Linked DNA regions of Homo sapiens: all the other regions are linked to region 5. Evidence: fine-mapped expression QTL. A gene starts in region 5. Each other region holds a variant in brackets. All regions are shown on one strand. Distances are from middle to middle.

Region 1 (4,089 bases), 120 kb before region 5:
GACAGCTTCGACTCCCTATAATTTTATTCCTGACCCAACCAATCAGCATTCCCCATTCTATAGCCTGCTGTCTGCCAAACTATAAAAAAACCCTAGCCTCTGAATTTTCAGGAGGTTAATTTGAGTAGTAATAAAACTCATCTTCTGTTTAGCCAGCTCCACATGCACTAAACTCTTTGTCTTGATAAATTGGCTCTATCTGGTCAGCAGGCAAGAAAAACCTATTGGATGGTTACATGAGGACACAGCAAGAAAGCCCTTATGAGACACTGAGTTCCGGCATCTTGATCTTGAACTTCACAGCCTCTAGAACTGTAAGAAAACTAATTTCTGTCATTTATAAATTATCCAGACTGTATTTTGTTACAGCACCACTAACAGACTAAGACACACATGTAGATATAAAGTGTAATCATACTGTAAGCTTCTATAAAAAAATTTTTACATAGCAGACATGAGCCAGCCCCTGTAAATTCACTGAGAATTTGTGATCCATGTTGGACTGATGTGACTGAAAGGAATGGAAAAAGCAATACAAAACAAGCTAGACTGTGTCACCTTGTCCCCAGTACCCTCTGGCTTCATGAGGTTCAGAAGACAAAAGGAAAGAAAAGTCATATTTTTTCCCCCTGCTTCTTTTCTTCCAAGCTATAATTTGTGTTCCTCTAAGTGTGGCCATAGCTTCCTACCCTTGTCCAGTATCCATAGAGATAGTACTAATTTTTCTCTGTTGCTGATTGGGTGCTCACCAGCCCTGGAGGTTTAATTCTGCCCACACTCCTGTAAATAGTCCCTTCATTAATTAATTAATCAATTTCCCTTTTGAGTGTGCTATCATTTCCTGCCCTAGAACCCTTTTTGATATGCTGGAAAGATAATTTTCAAAAAAGGTAAAATAATGACTCTCATGCAGCTATAAAATGAACATGTGTCAAAAATTTTATTTAATACATTAATTAAATGAGGGAACCAGTAAAGATATTATAGCCAGTTCAAAGGAGAAGTGAAAAAACAGGAATTCAGAAAAATTTGCAAAGGCTGTAAAACTGGCTCTTTCCTTGGGAATCAGGGAGGGTTGCCCTTCTACCTGACAGAATTTATTTGCACATGTATAGGTAAGAATTATGTGCGTTGTTACCATTTATCTGCAATTTACAGAGTTGTAAAATAGCTCAAAGACAGTGAATTGGAATCAGATACCCTGAAAAGTTGTGCTCTAAACAATACGTAATATTCCACTGAAGCATAATTTTTCTCCATATACATTTGCCTTCTTTCTTTAAAGGGTACTTTGATTCAGGTAATTACTTGTGTAGTGATATGAGGGCATCCTATTCACCAGGATTTATTTAGCACAAACATAGTTTTTATCTGGAGTAAGTGCTTTGAAATGCTGATGGAGTGGAAGGAGAGATCTGTAGGGAAGGCTCAGAACAGCTTTACAGGAAGCAAGGAGAGGAATTCACTTTGTAGAGCAAAGGGGAAGGGGAGGAGGCAGAAGATTGCAAAGACTGTTCACAATGTGAGCACTCCTTATAACCCAAACCTTCAGTAAAGTTTGCAAAAAAAGAGAGATTATTGGATACTGAAGCTTTTATGTGTTGTGCTTTTGTGAAAATTGGAGGAAAGGATGAATTTTTTTTATGAGAGTTTGTGGCAATGGAGATAGACTTTGCACACAAAGAGTCTGAGTGGTGGTGGGGTGGGGGGTACTATAAATGAGACTATGAGCCTCAAGAATTTACAGACATGGACAGGGAGAACTCTAGACTTTCACAAACTGAGACTGGTAATGTTAAAAGATAAATTTGGGCACATTAAAAGTTTTAAAAATTTATTTGAACTGTTGATTTAAAAAAAAGACTCAAACTCTGTAAAATATTTTAAGAGATTTATTCCGAGCCAAATGTGAGTGACCAAGGCCTGAGGCACAGTCCCAAGAGGTCCTGAAAACATGTGCCCAAGGTGGTCGGGTCATAGCTTGATTGTGTACAGTTTTAGGGGAACAGAAGTTGCAGGCAGACATCACTCAGTACATGTAAAGCGTACACTGCTTTGGTCTGAAAAGGCAGGACAACTTTAAGAC[G/A]TAATATAGGGGGATTGGGAAACTTGTGGCAGGAGGGGGCTTCCAGGTTATAGGGAGAGTCAAAGATTTTCTGACTGGCAATTGGTTGAAAGAGTTAAGTTACTATCTCAAGACCTAGGATCAATTGAAAGGAGTGTCTGGATTAAGACAAGGGGTTGTGGAGACCAAGATTCTTATTACACAGATAAAGGTCCCACATAGCAGGCTTCAGAGAGAACAGATAGTAAATGTCTCTTATCAGACCTAAAAAGGTGTCAGACCTTAAAAGGAAAAACCTGGAAAGGGAAGGGGATCCTCTACAGAATATAGATTTTCCCCAGAAGAAATAGCTTTGCAGGGCTAGTTCAAAATATGTCAAAAAAATATGTTTTGTAGTAAAACACTTCAGTTTATTTCAGGACCTGCTATCTGTCATGTGTTGCTACTGAGGAGTAAATTCTGATTTTTTTATCTTGCCCAAATTCCTATCTAAGAGTTCTGGGGAGTCATGCCCTACAAACCATAAATTCTCATCAGATGGGTTTTATTTAACCCTATATATCGAGACTTACTTTTCACCCTGACTCTGGAATAACATTACATGACAAGGAAGAAAAGCAAAATATTTTATCCCAAAACATGTTTTTTTGCCATATCTTGAAATGGCCCTGCAAATCTGTCTTTTGTGGGGGAAAATTTGCATCAGTAAAGAATCTCTATTAACATAGCTAGATCTTTTACTTCCAGGCCCTCCCAATCCTAAAAAGATTAACTTAAAGTCTAGCACCTTTTAAAGATCTGAATAGGAAACGTTTGTCATCTGTTGTCTCTGAGGGCAGCCACAATAAAACTTCAAAAGAACCTTGGTCTCCACAATCCTTTATCTTAACCTGAACATTTCCTTTCTGTGATCTCAGGTCTTTAGATAAACTCAACCAATTGTAAATCAGAAAATGTTTAAATTTACCTATAGCCTGGAAGCCCCAACTTTGAATTGTCCTACCTTTCAGGACTAAACCAATGTATTTCTTAAATGTATTTGATTGATGTCTCATGCCTCCCTAAAATGTATAAAACCAAACTGTGCCCCAATCACCTTGGGCACATGTTCTGAGGACCTCCTGAGAGCTGTGTCACGGGGCCATGGTCACTCATATTTGGCTCGGAATAAATCTCTTCAAATATTTTACAGAGTTTGGGAGTCCTCGGCCTCCCAAAGTTCTGGGATTACAGACGTGAGCCACTGTGCCCAACCTTGTAACTGTTTCTTATCAGACTTTAAAAAGGTGCCAGAGTTAGTTAATTCCCTTCTGAATCAGGGAAAGTACTTGGAAAGGGAAGAGGATTCTCTGTAGAATGTAGATTTTCCCCACAAGAGACAGCTTTGCAGGGCCATTTCAAAATATGTCAAGAAATATATTTTGGGATAAAATCTTTAGTTTCTTGCAGAACCTGCTCCTTGTCATGTTGGTATCTTAGGCTACAAACAGTCTGTTTTGTCAGATGTAAAATCTCTATGTTAATGTTAATGCTGGTCAGCTGTACCTAAATTCCAGAAGGGAGGACAGAATAATGAGACATGTCTGACCCCGCCTTCCCATCATGGCCTGAACTAGTTTCTCAGGTTAACTTTGGAATGCTCTTGGCCAAAAGGAGGGGTCCATTCAGTTGGTTGGAGGGTTTAGAATATATATATTTTTTGAGACAGAGTCTCACTCTGTTGCCCAGGCTGACGTGTAGTGGCATGATCTCAGCTCACTGCAACCTCCGCCTCTTGGGTTGAAGTGATTCTCCAACCTCAGCCTCCCGAGTAGCTGTGATTACAAGTATGTGCCACCACACCTGGCTAATTTTTGTAATTTTAGTAGAGATGGGGTTTCACCCTGTTGGTCAGGCTGGTCTTGAACTACTGACCTCAGATGATTTGCCCACCTCGCCTCCCAAAGTGGTGGGATTACAGGCCTGAGCCACTGCCCCAGCCGAATTTTATTTTTGGTTTACAAGGGAGAAGCTCATTGGGTAAA
Region 2 (4,081 bases), 42 kb before region 5:
GAGGGAGGACCTGGAGGTCTTGACTTGCCACTTAAGAGTAACTTTATTAAATGCAGTTCTTAAGAGTATCTCTGGAAGGAGGCACTGAACAAAGATCTCAGCTTACTGTGAACACCCATGCATGTTTTCATGGCTGCATGAGCGGCCTGTTTCAGGTTACGGAGGCTGCCATTAGCTCAAGAGACAGACTTCTGAGCAGGAGGGAGGACGGATGATTTTAGGTGATAAGAGGTTTCTTCCCCCTTTGAGGGAGCCCCAGTCAGAAGGAAAGGATCCCAGGCATCAGTCGGTTTAACGCCTCTAGATCACCAAGCTTATCAAATTCCAGCAAAAGTGGCCCGGCCCCACCTGGCCTCTTCTCAGCCTAGAAGTCCAGGGGCCATAGGCCCTGCGAGGGAGTTTCACACAAGGTATCTGAGAAGGTGGGCAAAGGCAGCCATCTGTGCCTGCTCCTACCTAAGTAACTGTTAGCAGGAACAGGAACGAGACTTTCATCATGCTCAGTCTCTCCACCAACTTCATAAGGCCCATCTTCAAAGATGTTCATGTCAAAAAAAGTGTTATTCTTTTGCTCTACACGAACAATCCCTAAAGGAATGAAATGGTAAAAACAACAAAAAAATGAAGATGAAACAAAAGAAAATAAATGGTTCCTAATAAACATCCCCCATGCTATCACTAGTTACAGGAAAAAAAATTTGGAGGAAAAAAAGGAAGGACAGAGATGACTTTTATGGTTGTAAAATACATTTGTGTAAATTTTTATGGGAAAGAAATTTGTTTGAGTCATTAAAAACTGTCCCATGCATTTTCATGAACTATCTTTATAATGCCATGAAACTAGATGAAAAATGGAAGGTTTGCTTAGTTAACAAAATCTACAGAGAACCAATTTTTAAATGACATGAACTTGATATATATATTTTACATTCTCTGTAATCCTGCCTCAATTTGTCTTTTTTTTGCAGTGTAAAAGTGAGACATATTGATCTTTTCTTTAGATCACTTTAACCAAGATTTCATCTTTTAAAAATTCTTACAATTAGTAATTTAAAACATAAGTTTTCATATAGTAAGCCCAAATCACTATATGGCTTTAAATGGCGACATTTTAGGTCAGGTTTATAAAGCAGGTAAACCATATTTTCCATGAATTAAAATATACATAATTGGTGGATATTTTTGTTTTGTTTTACTATATAAAGCATTTATTCATGCTAAAATAAAACTAAATTCAACATGTTATTTCAGTTAGGTCAAAATAACCTGGGAAATACTGTACATGAAGATTCTGTTGGGGTGGAGGTGGGGGCAAAGGGAAATTACCCTTGAAGATTGCACACAGAGAAAGGTGTTCAAGAGTCATTTAGAACCACAATTAAAACAAATTGTTGAATGGAAAAGGGACCATTTTCCTAAGTTTTCCCTGATGAGTGAAAGTGTTATGTGACTTATTATTAATACATTTCTCAAAAATGGCTTATTTCCAAATCAGATGCAGTTCTCTTCATCATGGATGAGAGTTAGGTTGTCTTTTATGATATAGCATTTTCTATACATACACAGTCAAAAAATGTGGGCCATTTTCTTCTTTACCTCTCTACATCTCCATTTACTCACATCACAATAATCAAACGACTTTTCCTCACATATCTGAAATTATACCTCAAAATTCCCCAATTCGTCTGTAATCTGCCCTTCTAACTCTACTGAATTATTAGCAAAGCATGGCCTTTGAAAATAACATATACAGAGAGAAATGTCCATATTAATACTCTGTTATTAATGTCCATGTTAATACACTGTTATTTGTATATACCATTATTTAATCCTCCTAAGTTTTCAGATCACTAACTTAAAATTAACACTTCCAGCTTCATGAGTCGCACAAATCTAAAACAGCAAAAAATACTAATGTTAATTATTATATTCCTGCTAAAAAAAAGTTAACTACCTGAATTAAAGTAAAGTACTGGTAGAGGGGAAAAGAATGTCAACACCAAAACATATATTCCACTATTATTAGCTTTTAAAAATCATATCATTTAGAGATTTTTAATATCCTACCCAACTTTTATAATATACGAATGTCTTCTAACACATTTTAGCTCAAAATGTACTAAATCATATTACAGAAATTAGGGGAACTAATCTCTATTTCTATAAATACAAAGGTCATACCTTTCCAGTTATAAGTACCCGGGGCTCCAAATACAATGTAATGAAAGTCTTTAGTAAAAGTAGCTGCTACACCTTGCTGGCAAGAGCCAAATTTCTCATGGCCTCTCAATCGCCCATCACAAAAGCTCCAATCTCCCCCATCCATATCGTCTTCAATCCTGAGATTCTGACTCAGGACATAACACCGCCCAAAGATGTCTCGGGATTCCTGCTTCGTATTAACATGCTGCCTTTTTTCATATCGGTGAGCACATGTCTGCAAGCAGAT[G/T]GAAGAAAGTAGCCCATTCTTGTCTATAAACCTTGTTTTTAAAAAATTACATATGAATAAAATGGTCAATACAGAGGTTAATTCTAAAGAGGATGATTAAGCATGTCCTCATCTTGGGACCGGATCCCAGACCAGCAAATATTCCCCAAAGTGGCACTAAGGAGACCATTATGAAGACATATAGAAACTAGAATGTGCCTTATTCTCACTCAGAATAATCCTCCAATCCAAAATTGAATGACAATCTGTATCCATAGGCAATTTATTTGTAAATTTACCTGTCACATAAACAAAGAGAAACACCTTATTTCATTTTCTTAATTCAAATTGGCTTTTAGTGGCTGTATAAACCTTCAGAACATCAGTGTGAAAGTGGGTAATTATGTTCTAGAGGAGAGAAATCATGGACCTGTTTTCATAGGGATCAAACAAACACAGCTAAAACAAAGACATTTCCTTTTCCCCACACTATTTCCTTGTAATCAGTCCTAACTTACACCCTGAGCTCTGAGATTATTTCCCAAAATATGCCTACTTTTAAAAGGCAGAGAGAATTACAAGGCCAGAAGAGACAGAAATAATCTCTATAATTTCTACAGGGTATGAATGGCTAACCTCCATGTAAACACAGCCTAAAAATACAGTATCAAATCAATTTTCCATAAATGTCATTCCTTAAATATCAAAACTCAATGTTCACTAAATTTTTTTTCTCAAAATTCTGTATAAATTTCGTTACAGCAACCAGATTTTGAAGGAGACAAAAAGATCATATTCCAACCAGGAAGGCCTTACCATGACCATCTAGCCCAATCCACCTAACAAACCCTCTTTTCTTTGCTATCCCTTCTATTTGAAAAAACTCAGAATAAATAACAAGAGGTTAAAACTACCTGGTTATTACTTTCTAAGACCATGCCCATATTTTTACTAACTTATCTATAAAGCTATAAAATTCCAAGGACAGAAATGATGTCTAGTTTTGTTTTGTTTTTAATACCATCTAGAGTTGTAGGAATATTTAGTAAAGGTTCTTTAATAAGTTATTTAAATCTGAAAGTTCTAAAGAAAAGTAGGTTGTGTGATTGCTTCTAAGTATATCAGGAATCACAGGAGAAATAAGGCTTTGATTACGTGATTACTTCTTCTTTTTTTTTCTTTTTTTTGAGATGGAGTTTTGCTCTTGCAACCTCCACCTCCCAGGTTCAAGCGATTCTCCTGTCTCAGTCTCCCAAGTAGCTGGGATTACAGGCGCATGCCACTACGCCCAGCTAATTTTTGTATTTTTAGTAGAGATGGGGTTTCATCATATTGGTCAGGCTGGTCTCAAACCCCTGACCTCAGGTGATCCGCCCGCCTTGGCCTCACAAAGTATTGAGATTACAGGCATGAGCCACCACGCCCAGTCTGATTTCTTTTTGACATCCATTCCTGCTTTAAAGCAGTAAGTTCGCTAGAATGTATGCTCCCTGCTGTCCCCTGCTGTAAGCCTGGTGCTGGCACATAACCAGCAGTCCAACAGTATAGGATGAACATGTGTCTCTACACTTACCACGACCTTGCCCCCTGGACCTTGGCTCTGGACGGTGACCCCCATCCACTGATCTTCCTTGCTTTCTGACGTGGGGTCAG
Region 3 (4,089 bases), 120 kb after region 5:
ACCCTGAAGCCATCTGGGCACCAGCAGAACCCACACTCTCGGAACACTGCTGCATGCTGAGCCCAGCCAATTGCAGCCCAGCCTGCACCACAACCACCTGCCCTCTGCTCGGCACAGCTCTCCAGCAAAGGGTCTGGGCAGAAGGCTTTGCACTTGTGGTGTGTGCAATGCTTATTTCTTCAACCAGAAAAGTCTTTCTGAGCTTTGTTGAGGGCATCAGATCTCCCTCCGTCGCGCTTATTTTTCAATATAAATGTATAAATGGTGCTTCTATAACAGGATGCCAAGAAGCCCAGAGTCCAGAGAATCTCCTGGGCCCTAAAACCCGGGCTGGCCCAGGCCCTTCAGTTTAGCCTTGAGTCCTGGGTCCAGTCGTGTGCACTGATTGATCAAGGGCCAGTAGTCCATGGTGAAAGAAGGATCTCAAGGCAGAGTTAAGCTCTCCCTCAGAGACCTTGCTACAGCCACACTTAAAACCAGCTCTAGGCAGCTGTGTCCCTGGAGATCCTCTCCCTGGCCGGGCACTACATCCCATTCCATTTCTGTCCTGCCATTCTTTGAGGCCAGGGGAAGACCTGCCTCTCTATAAAGCCTCTCTTGACCACCCCCACGGGAGGCTCTCACTTCTATCGCCCTTCAATCGCTGCGACTGTTACTGTGGACACTGTCTCCTCAGCAAGAGCGTGAGGCACTCAGCTCCTTGGTCTCTTCTCGCATGAAGCATGCTGCTGACATGTGGGAGACACCAGGGCTGTTGAATCAAGAGAGACCGTGTTGTTCCATCCTCCCCTAGACACCACAGTCCAATTCCCGAAAGGACCCAATGTTTCCTGTAGCTGATCACAGGTAGCTGAGTGCCCAGAGGATGGTAAAATAATTTCCATTAAGTATGGACTTCCAGTAAGGATGGACTTACTGCAGTCCATATGGGGTCAAACTCTGAATATGAGCAAGTCTTGCTTCCTTAGTCTCCCTCCCTCCTTTCACCCTCAGCCTTGTTCATGCCTACCGACCTCATCACCAGCATCACCAAGACCTCACAGCCATGAGGTCCCTGAAGTCTGCCCTTTGTTCTGGGAAAGTGGCATAAAATTTTTTTTTTTTTTTTTTGAGACGAAGTCTTGCCTTGTCACCCAAGCTGGAGTGCAGTGGCGTGATCTCAGCTCACTGCAATCTCTGCCTCCGGGGTTCAAGCAATTCTCCTGCCTCAGCCTCCTGAGCTGAGATTACAGGCACTCTCCATCATGCCCGGCTAATTTTTGTATTTTTAGTAGAAACGGGGTTTTACGACGTTGGCCAGGCTGGTCTCAAACTCCTGATCTCAGGCGATCCACCCACCTCGGCCTCCCAAAGTGCTGGGATTACAGGTGTAAGCCACCACGCCCAGCCAATTCTTTTTTCCAAGTAAAGCCCTCATTAGAAAAACAAACGTCTCGCCTGCTCATATTATAACATTTCACAGCATAATTTTGGTATATTTTTATGCTTTTAAAACCTCTTCCCACCAAGGATGAAGAAGAGGTGGAGCAAAGTGAGTGAAGAGATGGATATTTCTGTTACAAACAGGCAAGTTAATGCCTCTCAGAAACGACTGAAGGGGCCTGAAAGGCCTGGAAGAGTAAATGGACCTCCCTAAAGGTACCAGGTCTCCCAGAAGGCAGTGGCCATAGGCCAGCCACTCACAAGGGCCTGGCACTATACAACTGGCCCTGAGCCCATGCAGGGCAGGAACCGGAGGGATCCTCTCCCCCTCGGTATCAAGGTAGGAGCCAATTTGTAGGCAGCCACTTGGGCTCCATTGGGCCACTGAGTACCTTGTCTCACCCATATGTTTTCCCTTTCCTTACAAAGCTGTTTCCTCAGAGGGTTCAGTGAGGAAACTCCTGAATAAACAGAGAGCATGCTGTTGGCCCAAGTTCTCTGAGGTGCACCCCAGGGACACAACCCTGGGCTGAGCCTACTTCCAGGCCTCTTGCCAGCCCTCCTGCCAGTCACAACTGTTGTTTCCATGAAGTAGCTTCTTTCATCTCCACTTACTTCACCCTCTGAAGGAAAAGCTTATGTCTCCAAACAGCAAGGCAGAAGAAATCTCTGAGGCAGATGTCTACCAAAGGTGCTGCAGCCCTCTGCCCTCTCTTCCAGAAGGCCCTCCCCAGCGACAGAACAATGGCTCCAATCATGCCAGGGAGCTCCACAGGCCTCCAGGCTGCCTTCCTTTCAGTGTCTGTTTAGTTCAAGGGCCTCGTCTTGTGTGAGGGGTGTGGGGTGGGCAAAAAGCTGCTGACATGAAAGGCCACAGAGGCACAGACATGGCTGTTATCTCTATTTTACAGATGGTAAAGCTAAGGCTCAGAGATCATATAGCTGAGAATGGACAGAACCAGAAGTCCAGCCCATGTTTGTCTGATTTGAAATCCCAGATCTTAACCATGACCCTCTGTCCA[T/C]GGTGGACCGTTTGGATACATGGGGCCAGTGCCACAAACCAGGTTCATCGTGTGGACAGGAAGGGCCCTGCCAAACTCAAGGATTGGCTCAAGAAATAAATGGGCTGCACCTCAGAAAGGGGGCCAGGGAAAGTGGGTTTTGGTGGCAGCAGATGACCCCATTCTTTGCCAATATTATCATTGCTGTTTTGCTCTTGAGTTTCAGAAATTCAAGAAATAGTAGACAATGTCTACCACTTGCTGGTGCAATCTTGAGCAATTTACCTACTCTCTGCATGCCTCATTTTTCCTCATCTGTAAAATGGAAATATTAAGAGCCCCTATCTCATAGGGTGGTTGTGAGGATCAAGTGAGTTAATATGTGCAAACACCCAGAACAGTGCCTGGCACTTGGTAAGCACTGTATATTGCTGATGAGATCACCACCATCCCCATCTTCATCCACATTACCATCACCTTGGTCTAACACCTCCCTCATATCTCTCCAGGCATTATCAAGCCCTCTTGCTTATTGCTCCCAGAGCTGTTAATGACACCTTTAATAGAGTCCTCATCACTTTGTATCGATGCACTGAATATGAGAAGGATCATAATTTTCCATCTCTGTATCTCCAGTGCCTTCTACAGTGCCTAGCATATAGTCGGTATGCAATAAATGTGTCGAGTACATGCAACATGGTACTTAATTCTAAAAATATGGCTTTCAGACAAGTCACAAAGCCTATTTTTTTTTTCTTTTTGAGACAGGGTCTCACTCTGTCGCACAGGCTAGAGTACAGTGGCACGATCATAGCTCACTGCAGCCTCAAAGTCCTGGGCTCAATCTATCATCTCGCCTCAGCTCCCTGAGCAGCTGGGACTATAGGAGCATACCACCACACCCACGTTTTTCTTTTTCTTTTTTTAAATAGAGATGAGTTCTCCCTATGGTGCCCAGACTGGTCTTGAACTCCTGGGCTCAAGCTTCGGCCTCCCAAAATTGTGAGCCACCACATTTTGCCAAGGTCATCTGATTTTTATAAGATTTAAAAATATGTCTCCCCAGACATACAGATAAGAAGTACACACGATAATATGTGACAATAAAATTGAAAGGGTTTGAAATTGTCAAGTAGGCCAGGCGTGGTGGTTCATACCTGTAATCCCAGCACTTGGGAGGCCAAAGCAGGAGATCACTTGAGCCCAGGAGTTTGAAATTAGCATGGGAAACATGCTAATTTTTGTATGTTTAGAAACCCTGTTTCTACAAAAAAAAAATTTAAAATTAGCAGGGCATGGTGGTGTGTACCTATAGCCTCAGATACTTGGGAGGCTGAGGTGGGAGGATCTGTTTGAGCCCAGGAGTTCAAGGCTGCAGTGAGCCAGGATCAGGCTACGGCACTCTAGCTTGGGCCACAGAGCAAGACTCTATCTCAAAAATAAATAAACAAATAAATAAGTAAAAATAAATAATAAATTGTGAAGTGTTGAAGACGTAAGAAATTTCCATTGTGATAATCATTGTATCAAATAATACTAACAAACCCCATCTGAGGTCCTGATGACCTAGAGATCCTCTCCCTCTTCAGCATTTAAAGACTCAGAAGTAGATATGGTTCCTGAGAAATAGCCCCATGAATGTTGCCCTAAATAAAACACTTTTCCA
Region 4 (4,089 bases), 25 kb after region 5:
ATTTTATTGCATTTATGTATTTCATAAAAGAATGTGGGGGTTATATTTATATGCCAGCAAACTTCATGAAAATGACAAAACGGTGGAGCTTGCATCAGGGGACACTGATTAATAACTCATTCCCATTGAGTTGCTTGAAAGAAAGTGGCAGCAAATTATTCCATGGGTTCTAGACATTCAAACTCTATACTTGTTAAAACGTGAAAAAATAAGTAGTAGTGCCTAATCTAGGATGAAACCTAGCCTTATTTTGTAGGAGTAGAGCTGGAAAGGGGGAAAATAGTAAATAGCATGCAATACATTTTGAATTTTGGCTGATAGTAGGCCATGTATACACATATTTTAAACAAAAATTAAATTAAAAAAAAATTTTTTTGCCCTGCCACATAAGTGCTTCTCAATTACAGTTTTTTCTGCTTCCCCTCTTGACTTCATTGATTTTGTGTGAGCCTGCAAGTGTGCACATTCTTTGAATATAAATTGCTTTAATTAAAAACCACCTGAGCCACAGAGTTCACTCTGGTTCAGGAAATTCAATTCTCAGCTTGGCGGGGTGAAGATTTAGTAGAAATGATTTTACATCCTGGTTGCCCTTCCAAAGGAGCTGTGACTTTTCCAGGACAATCTCTTCTTTGAACCCAACATGAAAACACATTAGTGCTCTTTTCAGAACAAAGAAATGTACATAGGAAATAAAGACATTGTTTTATCAAAGCCTCATCTTCTACTCTGACGTAAACTGGCTGGGAAAGAAAGTGTCTCCTTCCGAGAGGAAAGTGGTTCAAGTCTGTTTTCTCCATACTCAGAAATCTTACTCACTTGCAATTATAAAAAAGTAGATGCGAGCTTTCCCATTTTCTCTTCTCTAGCATTTTGTCCCGATCTTCCTCAGTTTGTCCAGCACAGGTTGTGAGCCCACTGCCACCCAGTGAATGTGAATTACTGACTGGATAGCCAGGCTTGGTCTGTGCTCTTTTATCTGAATGGCAGCTGACACATTATTCATCAGATTTATTTGAGCTGGCTTTGCCTCCTTCTAGGATGAGGAGGAGCACTGTTGTCAGAATCCAGGCTGCTCAGAACACAGAAGAGAGCAACAACCCCTATCTTGCAGCCTGTCTCTACATGCATGGCCTCCACCCTGGGCCCCAAAGACAGCCTGGCTGAGACCAGTTCAGGGTACATTTGTCTTGGGTATTCCGCCTACTCCATCCATATCCTCTGACACACATGGCGTGTCTGTGGTGGCCCCCTGGCTTGCCACTGCATGTAGCCAAGAGCCAGCTTCCTTCTGTTTACTTCAGAGCTCACTCATGGCCCCAGACAATCCCTCTCCACCCATAGACTCAATCGTGAGTGTGCAGCGACAAGGCCCTTGCTGCATCCCATTGTCTCTGGGAGTCTTTCCAGTACCCCCTTTCAGGGCTCCCTCTGGCTTCTTCTCGCTTCTGGATTCTCCACCTACAAGTGTGGACTTGATGCAGACCTACCACTGCCCTCATTGATGGATCCCAAATCCAGCCCCATTCCCTTGTATTACCCGTCTGAGGTCTGAGAATCCCAGCTCACTGAAAGGCTTGGGCACTCTCCACAAGGTGCCTAATAAAGACATATCCCAGGATATGATAGGACTGTGGGACCGACAAAATGCCCAGATTGTGCTCATTGTCTCTGAGTTTATTCTCCTCCTAATATGAAGAGTAACAGAAGTCTAGTTGTGCAACTAAACAGTCTGGTACCCGAGGACGTTTAAGGAATATCTAAACCAAGTGTTGACAAAAGTCACATTAAACAAGCCAAGCACTCCAGAAGATACAAACAAAAAGGTATATAATAATCTGCCACTCTGAGTAGTTAAAGAGACATACGTTTAAAAATATTTTTTCTACACTGATTTAGCACCTTCTATATATGCCAGGCATTGTACTATGGGCCAGATAACAGAAATGAATAAAGACCACTTGGTTAGCACAAGGAACTTTACAATGCAATGGGGAAAATGAGACACACAAACAAATAGCAATGATGCAGTAATGGATGTGTGCTGGGAACAGCAGGGACTGCAGCAGAGTAAGAGGCTCTGAGTGGAGGCGGTGGGTTACTCCCCAAACATTTATCCTAGGCTTATTAAGCTCTGATACTAGGAATAAAGTCCCTATTTTCAAGGGGCTCACCTGTTACTAGGAGAGCAAGATAAACAAACAGGTGCATGCCAAACAGCATGATAATGAGCAAATAGGGATATATATGGGATGCAGTGGAACTCAGAGGAGGGGCTCTAACCATAGGTAATACTCAAGATCTTTAACTCACCATCGGAAATGACTCCAGCAGTAAACAATTGACTCTATAAATGGCTGCACTGTCTTATTAGGAAAAAACCCTCTCCCAGCCCAGACTGGATGGCCCAGGAGCTTCCTGGAGGAAGTGAGGCCTGAT[T/C]AGCCACTTGAAGGACAAGTAGAAATAGACCAGGCAAGGGCATTTTAGAGAGAGATAACAGTAAATGCAAATGCTTGGTGGTGTGAGAACAGAGAATCAGCATTCCTTCCCTAAACACCCCCAGTGAGCACCCAGACCACATGCACCTGGGGGTTCTCAGAAGCAGGCCTTGTGGAACAAGGCAGCTCACTCAAGTCATTAGAAGTGACATTTGAAGATGGTCAAGATTCAAAACAACACACACACACGCATCCACCCATGCATGCCTGTATGCACACAGCACACACGTGATACTGCTGTTAATAACTAGAAGCCCAGGATCCACCCTGGATAATGAAGATCAACCACTGAGCCAAGGATGAAAAGGGAGAGACTGGCAAATCAAGAAAAGCAGATCAATACAGAGGGAAACATAAAAGAACAGCCCTGAAAAAATTTCCCCCAGAGAAAAAAAGATTAAGGTCAAACTATAAAACTGCTCTAATTATAAATCTACTTAGTGGCTTAAGTGAACATACATTAATAAGACAAAATGCAAAAATGAAAATTAAATGGAAAATAAGCAAATGTAACAAATACAATGTCTGATGTAAGAAAGTAGGAGGCAGCTGGGCGCAGTGGCTCATGCCTGTAATCCCAGTACTTTGGGAGGCCGAGGCAGGTGGATCACTTGAGGTCAGGAGTTCGAGACCAGCCTGGCTAACATGGTGAAACCCTGTCTCTACCAAACATAAAAAATATTAGGCAGGCATGGTGGCATGTGCCTGTAGTCCCAGCTGAGGTACAAGAATCACTGGAACCCAGGAGGCGGAGGTTTCAGTGAGCCGAGATCATGCCGCTGCACTCCAGCCTGGGTGACAGAGCAAGACCCTGTCTCCAAAAACAAACAAGAAATGTAAGGCATTTGTAGTTTCTGCCTGCCCAGAACCCACCCTATTCTTCTGTAAGGGAGACCTCCTTTCTCTTGAGGGGCTCAGGCCCTACAGTTCAGCTGGAGCTAACCCTTACCTCTCCTCTGCCACAGGTGTGGGAATAGGACTTGGGCCTGTTCAAGGTGGCCCATTACCTCTAGTTCCAGTGATGGGTTCACACGTGAGCATATGATTTAGTCCTCTCCCAGGACTTTCCTGGTGGACTTAATGTGAAGAAGCTCTTCCTCAGTGGGAGTTGCTAAGCAGGTTGCATGTGAGCCCCAGAATGCTTGAAACCATCTTCACCAGTGGTGGGAGGTGAAGCTTGATTACATCATTTCGACTCCTGGAGCAGCTATCCATCCTGGACTTTTCTGGTATTTGAGCTAATTCCCACTTTTACTTAAGCTAATTTGAGTTGGATTCTGTCACTTGAACCCCAAAAGGTCCTGATTAATTGAAGAAAACTTTCAATCACTAAAATAATGGTTTCAAGTGACAGGCACTCTGGCCCAAAACTGACTTTCCTAAATGGCCAGACCCTACATACACTGAACACTCATAAATGGAAATATAGGAAGAGAGAGCTAGATAGCATTCACAGAATGCATTTGGTTCTGATTTGTTAAAGAATTACTGGTACAAAAAGTTTAGGCCAGCAAAAAAGCACCATAATAAGGTGTCTCCCAAAAACATTTTGCATATGTCAGAAATACTACCCAATTGATTCCTTCACTTC
Region 5 (4,089 bases):
GAGAGAATGCCCAGGAGAATGAATTCCCTCTGCTGGCCCACAATCATTTCTGCACTAACAAGCTCAAATTCTACACACCAAGTATTCCGAGACAATAAACGTCATCTATTAACTGAGTTAACAGGAACCTTTCATTTCAGATTTACAGCTTAACAACAATTATTTCTGAGAGAAAGCAGAGTATAAGCAGCTGGCCAGGCATATAGCCTCAGACCACCCTCCTAGAGCCTCCCCACCCCCAGCTAATTTCTGTGCTTCACCTAGCAGGTGTTATCAGAAAAAAAAAAAAACTGACTAAAATTCAGGGGCTGCAACATTCACGAATTCCAAAGTTGTTAACCGCTGAAATCAAGAGGTTTCCTCCAGTTCTAAAATCCCATTCGCCTCTCCTAAACACAAAATCTCTTCACTGTGGCTGCACTTTGCTTTCTCCGGTCTGTTGGTCCTGGAAGGTCCTTAGTTCAACTCAAGGCCTGGGTGGGGAGGGGAGACCTTTTGTTGCTACAGCCTATTTTTCAGTAGCACAGATGAAGAATGCAACCCCATAGCGATTAAGGCGACTAAGCGCCAAAATACCCTCTCCGGCTTAAATAGCCGATCATGTGGGAACCAAACACTGTTTAAGAAATAAAAGGAGAGGCCAGTAGTGCCGGTCTCCTCTTTCTCCTGGGAGGTTTACCGCTACGGTGGGGGGTTGTCCCTTACAAACCTTGTTTGCAAAGTCCAGGCTCAGATCGGACATTTTGCTTTAACCCCTTGGCTGTGCCCGCCCAACGCAGGAGCCGAGCGGGTCTCGGGTGCGGCCGAGTACTTTGGGGGCTGGGCACATCACTCAGACTTGTTTTCTCAGCTGATCTAGTCCAGCGAACAGGTGTTTGGTTAATTCCCGCCCCCACCCCCATCTTTTTTTTTTTTTTTTTCAAAGGCATGTAAAAGTATCTCCTAAGGAGCGCCCCCGCCTTGCTGAGAAAGTCATGCAGGACACATGGAAAGTGGCTTTCCAACTTGTGCGGGGCGCGCCAGTCTGCGGGGGAGACGGGGTGCACCGTGAGTTTGGGAAAGGCCTAGACCATCCTGGAACTACGCTCCCTGCAAACCCACAGCAGCGCTGCGGTGACCCTGAACGCCACCCCAGCCCCAAACACACACGTGAAGCTCAGCAAAGCGTGCCACCTGCCGGGGTCCCAGCAAACACGCCCGGAGGGAAGAACCGGCGGAAAGCACTTTGTTTAAAACAGAAAAAAAAGTAAACTCTCCCGGGGCCCAGCCTAGCCCTCGGGTTCTCCTCCTTCCCGAGCTGAATGGAGGGAGGCGCCGCGCGGGGCGGGTCAGGGCGGGGAGCCGAGCGCGCTGGGCGCTGGGTGCGCCTCGGCCGGCCCGGGCGCGACCCACGGGCCAACTACTCCCCGGGGCCGGCGGGAACAGGGCGCGCCCTCGCCTCAACTCGCGCGCAGGCCGGCGCCCCAGTGGGGGTGGGAAGGGTCTGGGAACTCACAGCCGCTTGTCCTCGGGCTGCAGTTGCCAGTGCATGGCCAGCGAGAAGCCGAAGAGGCTCCCGGGGTCTCCATATTTCCGGATCACGTTGTCCTCCCGAGTGTCCAAGTTGAAGGCTGCGCCGAGCCGGGACAGGAGCCCCGCCGACAGGTAGAGCAAGCACAGCTGCCCGGCGGCGGCCATGGGCGGACGCACGGGGAGGGGAGCGGGGACCTGCAGCGGCCGCCCTGCGCTCCGGGCTGGGTCCGAGGCTGCCGCGCTGCTGCTACCGCAGCCACCTTCGCCTCCTCTCGCCGCTGCGCCCGGCCCCACCCCCGGGACGGGTCGCGCTCTCCGTCCGGCCGCTCCCCCTCGCGGGCAGCTCGCGACCGCTGAATGAGCCCGTTGTTCTCTGGAGACTCGCAGGCGTTTTATCAAGTGACGAGGACGCCGGCCCCGCCCCTCCCCACCCTCTCGCCCCTCCTTGCGCGCCCGCGGCCCGGCGCACCGCCCGCACCTTACCCGCCGGCTCTGGCGTCTCCAGCTGCCCGGTACCTGCCCGGAAGCCACGACGTGGGAGCCCCGGAGGCGAGCTCGCGGCGAAGCAGCCCCACTGCGCCGCCCTCTGTGGACAGAATTGTGGTTGCCGAGTAGCACAGAGCGAGGGAGACTTTACTACCCGTTATAAAGAGAAGTGCAGGTGATGCACCGGGCCTCATGGCCTGAGCAGCCTGTTCTTGCAGATGTGGGCCCACGTGCAGATGCATACGTCATTCATTCATTTCTACAGGTGTTTATGGAGCGCTTAAGGCGTGCCCAACACTTGGGGACTACAGCTGTGTAGACTGTTCTGGGTCCTCAAACACCTAACAACCCTCAAAAATGATCACAGCGCACACCTTGATAGTGCTGTATAATGTACACAACCCAGCCATTACCTCAATTCATCCTAACAGTCCTATGAGGTAGGTGTTTCTTTTTGCAGATCAGAAAACCGAAGTTCCGCCTTGTCCCCAGATCACCTAGGATTTTGCCCAGGTGACCAGGAGAGCTTGTGGAAGAAGTCACGCAAGTCAAGGATGGGTTGTTTAAAGTGGCGCCAGGAGCTCAGGCGACGATGCCGTTCTTTCCTAGCCCCGGACTTTCAGAACTAGTTGTGGGGAGAACTGCTGGGCCAAGAGACAGCTCCGAGTTCTGTGTAGGTGGCATGAAGGCTCCTGCCTCCAGGACATGAGGCGGGGCTCCAGTGAGGTGTTGGCCCTAGGGGCAACCTTATCCTGCAGGGGTTCTTAACCCGAGGAGAGGTAATTAATTCAAGAGTACTGTGAACTTGGATGAGAAAAAATTTACGTCTTAATTTTCACCAACCTCTGACATTTAGCACGTTTTGCCATTATGAACGTAGACAACAAACTACAGTAGCAGTAGGATAAGTATTTATGACTTAGTAATCACTAGAAACCATAGGTTTTTACATCACATCACAGTTGTTGCAAGTATCTCAAATAACAGTAGTTATTAGACAATCAGCCAGATATTATATGTCAATAATGAAGCATATATATTGCTCTAGCACAAATTTTTAAAAACATTTTGTTAGCTACATTTCAATATTATTGGCTTTTTTTGTAACCTCTTGTGGTTTCTTTTATGTATTTAAAACCCTTATTCTGAGAAGAACCCCATGGTTTTCAGCAGCCTGCCAAAGGGGTCCCATGGCATGAAAAGGTTGGGACGTGCTGGCCTGAAGCCTTCTGGAATGCCTTGGGGAGCCCTCTTTGGAATCTGACATCCCTGCATTGGAAATACAAGCAGGGTGCAGCCCCAGGAAAGAGCAGGAGCTGTGTGTGCATAGGGGTAGGGGTGGCCTCTTCTTCACCTCAAGGAGTATTCAAGAGAACAGCATGTGCCACTCAGAAAAGCTGCGTGAACATCATCAAGGGTCCCCACAGGTGGTAGCAGCTGTCAGAGTAAGTCCGTCAGTATATTAGGGGTGTGTACCACTTCCTTTCCAATCAGTAACTCCAGTCAATTATAGTCCAAAGTGGGGTGCAGTGGTTTAAATTCAGTAGATGATTTTGGAGAGCACACAGTTTTAACAAATATATCTTGATAAGGTTGAGAAACTATTGGAGACAATCTAGTAAACTAAGAAGTACTTGCAACGTGATTTTTCATGCAAATAAGTTGCAAGTTAGCCTTTTCCCTTCGTGTAAAATATGTACTATTCCAGAGAGATGGGGTCCAGACTATTATAGGCATAGTATAATGAACCTCACTGCAGAGTGTACTCAGCCAGGAGCTGGTGATTTGGCTGTAATGGTTACTGAAATATTCTGAATTGGTTGATAAAAGCTGCTGCCCTTAGTTCCTCACAGGCAACCATCCCTGCCCTGCCCATTTTCCTAGGACTAAGCAACTTCCTCACAACCTGGCAAATGAAAGTTTAAGCCCTTAAGCCCTGATGCAGCAAGGGCTCCCTCTGCTTGGATATCCCCATGTCACACCAGCTGTTAACTATTCTGAATATCACCCCTTGCTTCTAAGAGTAATTCTGTGGACCATTGATTCCTGTCTTCCCAAGATGTGTTTAGTGGATGATGTATGAATGGCCAG
Region 6 (4,089 bases), 46 kb after region 5:
TATCTGGGTGACAAAATGATCTGTACAACAAACTCCTATGACATGAATTTACCTATATGACAAACCTGCACATGTACCGTTGAACCTAAAATAAAAGTTTTAAAAAAAAACCCAAAGAACAGTTATATAAGTTTTCTGAAATTTGTGGCCAAAAAAGTAGTTGTAGTATTACAGGAAAGGGGTCCTGATCCCAACTCCAAGAGAGCGTTCTTGGATCTCATGCAAGAAAGAATTCAGGGTGAGTCTGTAAAGTGAAAGCAAGTTTATTAAGAAAGTAAAGAAATAAAAGAATGACTACTCCACAGACAGAGCAGCCCCAAGGGCTGCTGGTTGCCTGTTTTTTTCTCTTTTTTTGAGACGGAGTCTCGCTGGGTTGTGCAGGCTGAGTGCAGTGGTGCCAACTCGGCTCACTGTAACCTCCACCTCCCAGGTTGAAGCGATTCTCCTGCCTCAGCCTCCCCAGTAGCTGGGACTACAGGTGTGTCCCACCATGCCTGGCTAATTTATGTATTCTTGGTACAGATGGGGTTTCACCATGTTAGTCAGGTTGGTCTTGAACTACTGATCTCAGGCAATCCACCCGCTTTGGCTTCCCAAAGTGCTGGAATTACAGGCGTGAGCCTGGTTGCCTATTTTTGTTTTGTTTTGAGACGGAGTCTCACTCTGTCGCCCAGGCTGGAGTGCAGTGGTGCAATCTCAGCTCACTGCAACCTCCGCCTCCTGGGTTCAAGCAATTCTCCTGCCTCAGCCTCCCCAGTAGCTGGGACTACAGGCCACCTGCCACCACACCTGGCTAATTTTTGTATTTTTAGTAGAGATGGGGTTTCACCATGCTGGCCAGGATTGTCTCGATCTGTTGACCTCATGATCAACGCCCCCCTTCTCGACCTCCCAAACTGCTGGGATTATAGGTGTGAGCCACCGCTCCAGGCCGCCTATTTTTATGGTTATTTCTTGATGCTATGCTAAACAAGGGGTGGATTATTCACGCCTCCCCTTTTTAGGCCATATAGGGTAACCTCTTGATGTTGCCATGGCATTTGTAAACTGTCATGGTGATGGTGGGAGTGTAGCAGTGAGGACCACCAGAGGTCACTCTCGTGGCCATCTTGGTTTTGGTGGGTTTTAGCCAGCTTTTTTACTGCAACCTGTTTTATCAGCAAGGTCTTTATGACCTGTATCTTGTGCTGCCTCCTGTCTTATCCTGTGACTTAGAATGTCTTAACTGTCTGGGAATTCAGCCCAGTAGGTCTCAGCCTCATTTTGCCCAGCTCCTATTCAAGATGGAGCTGCTCTGGTTCACATGCCTTTGACAGTAGCAAAAAGCAGTCCCCTCTCATTTCAATCCCATTGTTGTTCTTTTTTTCTGAGTTTTTAATTCCTTAAATCTCTATGCATAGCTTTTGTTCCCTAAATGTGGTTATGAGTTCAAGATGGCCCACTGCTCAGACCTTCCTTAAGTGTGGAGGCTTTCTGTTGGCTGTGGACTACCCCAGAGTTATCCCTGACAGGCAAACACTCATAGGCCACTGTGTCAGCCAGCTATGGGTGCCTGTCTAGAAGGCCACTCACAGGCAAGATGCAGATGGATGAAGGCACACAGACCTGCTTCCTCAAAAGATGCATTTTTTCAGTTTGTTTTTGATTAACACATCCTTCTGCCCACCCCTGACACCAGGGTAGGTTCATCAAAATCTATGGAAATGTCCGTAGGTTGCAGGAAGGTCCCCTGATTCTGAAACACAGGGCTGGAGAGAAGGCACAGTATTCCAACGGAATAATTCACAGAACCACTGGCAGAGAGTAAAGGAATTCTTGGCTTTATCTGGGTTCCCCTCCCCCCACTTCATTCAACATTTTAAAATACTTTCACCTGCTTCAGTGAAGGCACAGCTAGGGAACTTGTTGACTACCACGTGCTGTTATTTTAGTTAATATCCTTCTCCCCAGAGCTGAGCTTGTTTGCAGGAGGGCTTTGCAATGCGTGGCTTTCTTTCCATCCTGATAAGCTTCATTTCCAAGCTGGTGGCTCTCCGAAATTCTTTTGCAAAACAGAGCCTCAGATCTCTCCCTCCTTCCTGGTTCTATGGAGATTCTATATGAGAATTTAGAACAAGGCTCAGCATTCACCAGAATCGCCTGGGCTTCTTTTCTCTCCTGC[G/A]ATTGCTATGTTAATGAATCTGTTGGATGTCGCTGTGACCTACAAGCTCCTACCCAGCGGGAGAGCCCTGCATCTAAACTGCTGATATGTCACACTAAGAAAGGAAAAGAGGCCCTGCCTGGCCAGGCAGAGGGGCAAGGGGGTTTGGGAAGCCTTCCAAGACTCAGATCATTGTGTAGAGATGTAAAACATCACAACTCTCCTTGTTATTACTGGTGATAAATGGCTGGGCAGGCAGATCTGCACCACAAGAATTGCTGAAATTGAGGAAACCTTGTGGAATGAACAAGCAATTGAGGAGGAAGTGAGAGGCCGATGGCAGTGTGACCTTAGTGGCAGAAAAGCCATATGTCATGTTGCTGTAACAATTTATGGCAAATATTTCTCTGTCTGGGGTTTGCCTTTAAATAGAAATCACAAATGATGCAAGCTCAGGGTCATCACCTCCAAGTGCAAAGTCCTGCCAGTGGAGAAAGCTGCATGGAAGGGTTTCACAGGTTTGGGGAACTTTTGGCATGAAAGAGCCCAGCTCTTTGAGTTTGAGTTTCATCTACTCTTTTTTTAAGGATGAGTGGATATGTGAAAGTTGCAGTTGGAAATGAGCAGCTTCTCATAGACTTTTAACAAACTCAGGGCTTGTTAAAACAAGGATGAGGGGGCTCATCCCTGTGTCTGAATTCTCAGCAGCTCAGATCCCTGGCTTGTTTCTTGGGGATCCCATCCATGAGGACTGACATGGTTTGGCTGTGTCCCCATTTAAATCTCATCTTGTAGTTCCCATAATCCCCACATGTGGTGGGAGGGACCTGGTGGGAGGTAATTGAATCATGGTGACAGTTTCCCCCATGCTATTCTCATGATAATGAGTAAGTTCTCACGAGATCTGATGGTTTTATTTATTTTTTTTTGAGACGGAGGCTCACTCTGTTGCCCAGGCTGGAGTGCAGTGGCGTGATCTCGGCTCACTGCAAGCTCCACCTCCTGCATTCATGGCATTCTCCTGCCTCAGCCTCCCGAGTAGCTGGGAATACAAGCACCCGCCACCACGCCCAGCTAATTTTCTGTATTTTTTTTTAGTAGAGATGGGGTTTCACTGTGTTAGCCAGGGTTGTCTCGATCTCCTGACCTCGTGATCCACCCGCCTTGGCCTCCCAAAGTGCTGGGATTACAGGCATGAGCCACCGCGCCTGGCCGGTCTGATGGTTTTATAAGGGGCTTCCCCCTTCACTTGGCTCACATTCTTCTCTCTCCTGCCGCCTTGTGAAGAAGGACATGTTTGCTTCCTCTTCAACCATGATTGTAAGTTTCCTGAGGCCTCCCCAGCTGTGTGGAACTTCGAGTCAATTAAAACTCTTTCCTTTATAAATTACCCAGTCTCAGGTTATGTCCTTACAGCAGCATAAGAATGGACTAATACAAGGACCTTCACGAGTATCTCAGGCCTAGCAATGCCCACTAGTCTGGACAAAGGCATGCATGGCTGTGGAGACCCTCTGGCACCATGTCAGCCACACACATTTCTTAGTTTCATCTCTGTTACTTCACAGACAATGCTGGAAAAGTACAATAGATGACTGGGTTGAGTTACCTCTCTACAACACAGGGAAGAAAATGCTCAAGGCCATAGGAAACTGGGCAGACATTCCAGAAATAGGATGTCCAGGGATTCAAAGACAATGCCATCATGGGGACTGGCCATAGGGAGCGCTTGATCCAGGAATGGGCAGAAAGTAGTGCCATTCGGCTCCCCAGCTGGTGAAAGGAACAGCCATCCTTTGGCTTCCACCTGGGGAACCACCTGGAGACCCCTGGTGTTGGGTAACCACCTTCAAACTGCAGTTCTGTCTGCCCCTCCCCTGCATCACTCAGGAACTTGCCTCTCCATCCTCTGGACCTCATGGTAAATGCATACCCTTGCATTTCCTCTG

Which allele goes with the higher level. Positions count from the first base shown, and alleles are read on the strand shown. Sizes are in standard deviations (SD) of each study's normalised expression. Not every link is listed here.
For the expression in naive CD8 T cells of the gene that starts at base 1,880 in region 5, allele A in region 1 goes with a lower level than allele G (large effect, 0.77 SD a copy in Schmiedel 2018).
For the expression in aorta of the gene that starts at base 1,880 in region 5, allele C in region 4 goes with a lower level than allele T (small effect, 0.19 SD a copy in GTEx).
As copies of A replace G in region 6, the expression in fetal neocortex of the gene that starts at base 1,880 in region 5 goes up (small effect, 0.36 SD a copy in Walker 2019).

Evidence for each region. PIP is the estimated chance that this variant, and not a neighbour inherited with it, causes the effect.
Region 1: its variant is the best candidate, but not a certain one, in a credible set for the expression of ITGA6 in naive CD8 T cells (Schmiedel 2018, PIP 0.82).
Region 2: its variant is the best candidate, but not a certain one, in a credible set for the expression of ITGA6 in whole blood (INTERVAL, PIP 0.64).
Region 3: its variant is the best candidate, but not a certain one, in a credible set for the expression of ITGA6 in subcutaneous fat (GTEx, PIP 0.78).
Region 4: its variant is the best candidate, but not a certain one, in a credible set for the expression of ITGA6 in aorta (GTEx, PIP 0.55).
Region 6: its variant is the best candidate, but not a certain one, in a credible set for the expression of ITGA6 in fetal neocortex (Walker 2019, PIP 0.50).

What each region holds. Positions count from the first base shown.
Region 1 is chr2:172,548,830-172,552,918 of GRCh38, reverse strand. All of the region lies in intron 1 of PDK1-AS1 (PDK1 and ITGA6 antisense RNA 1), which reads left to right. Among named protein-coding and RNA genes, the nearest start is that of PDK1, 5.2 kb to the left of the region's middle. RefSeq lists a silencer at 1-98 and enhancers at 1-98, 2,604-3,345, 3,346-4,088. The variant G/A (reference allele first, on the strand shown) is at 2,087.
Region 2 is chr2:172,467,481-172,471,561 of GRCh38, reverse strand. ITGA6 (integrin subunit alpha 6) reads right to left here. Exons shown (of 26, transcript NM_000210.4): 3 at 4,002-4,081; 4 at 2,182-2,437; 5 at 457-588. The region is part of intron 3 of PDK1-AS1 (PDK1 and ITGA6 antisense RNA 1); the gene reads left to right. Among named protein-coding and RNA genes, the nearest start is that of ITGA6-AS1, 3.5 kb to the right of the region's middle. The variant G/T (reference allele first, on the strand shown) is at 2,450.
Region 3 is chr2:172,309,906-172,313,994 of GRCh38, reverse strand. The region is part of intron 3 of LOC107985960 (a long non-coding RNA gene); the gene reads right to left. Among named protein-coding and RNA genes, the nearest start is that of ITGA6, 120 kb to the left of the region's middle. The variant T/C (reference allele first, on the strand shown) is at 2,445.
Region 4 is chr2:172,400,704-172,404,792 of GRCh38, reverse strand. No RefSeq gene overlaps it. Among named protein-coding and RNA genes, the nearest start is that of ITGA6, 25 kb to the left of the region's middle. The variant T/C (reference allele first, on the strand shown) is at 2,440.
Region 5 is chr2:172,425,377-172,429,465 of GRCh38, reverse strand. ITGA6 (integrin subunit alpha 6) reads right to left here and starts at 1,880. Exons shown (of 26, transcript NM_000210.4): 1 at 1,496-1,880. The coding sequence starts at 1,677. RefSeq lists an enhancer at 568-1,068 and a silencer at 1,853-1,932.
Region 6 is chr2:172,379,025-172,383,113 of GRCh38, reverse strand. No RefSeq gene overlaps it. Among named protein-coding and RNA genes, the nearest start is that of ITGA6, 47 kb to the left of the region's middle. RefSeq lists enhancers at 1,264-1,433, 1,554-2,065, 2,066-2,575. The variant G/A (reference allele first, on the strand shown) is at 2,162.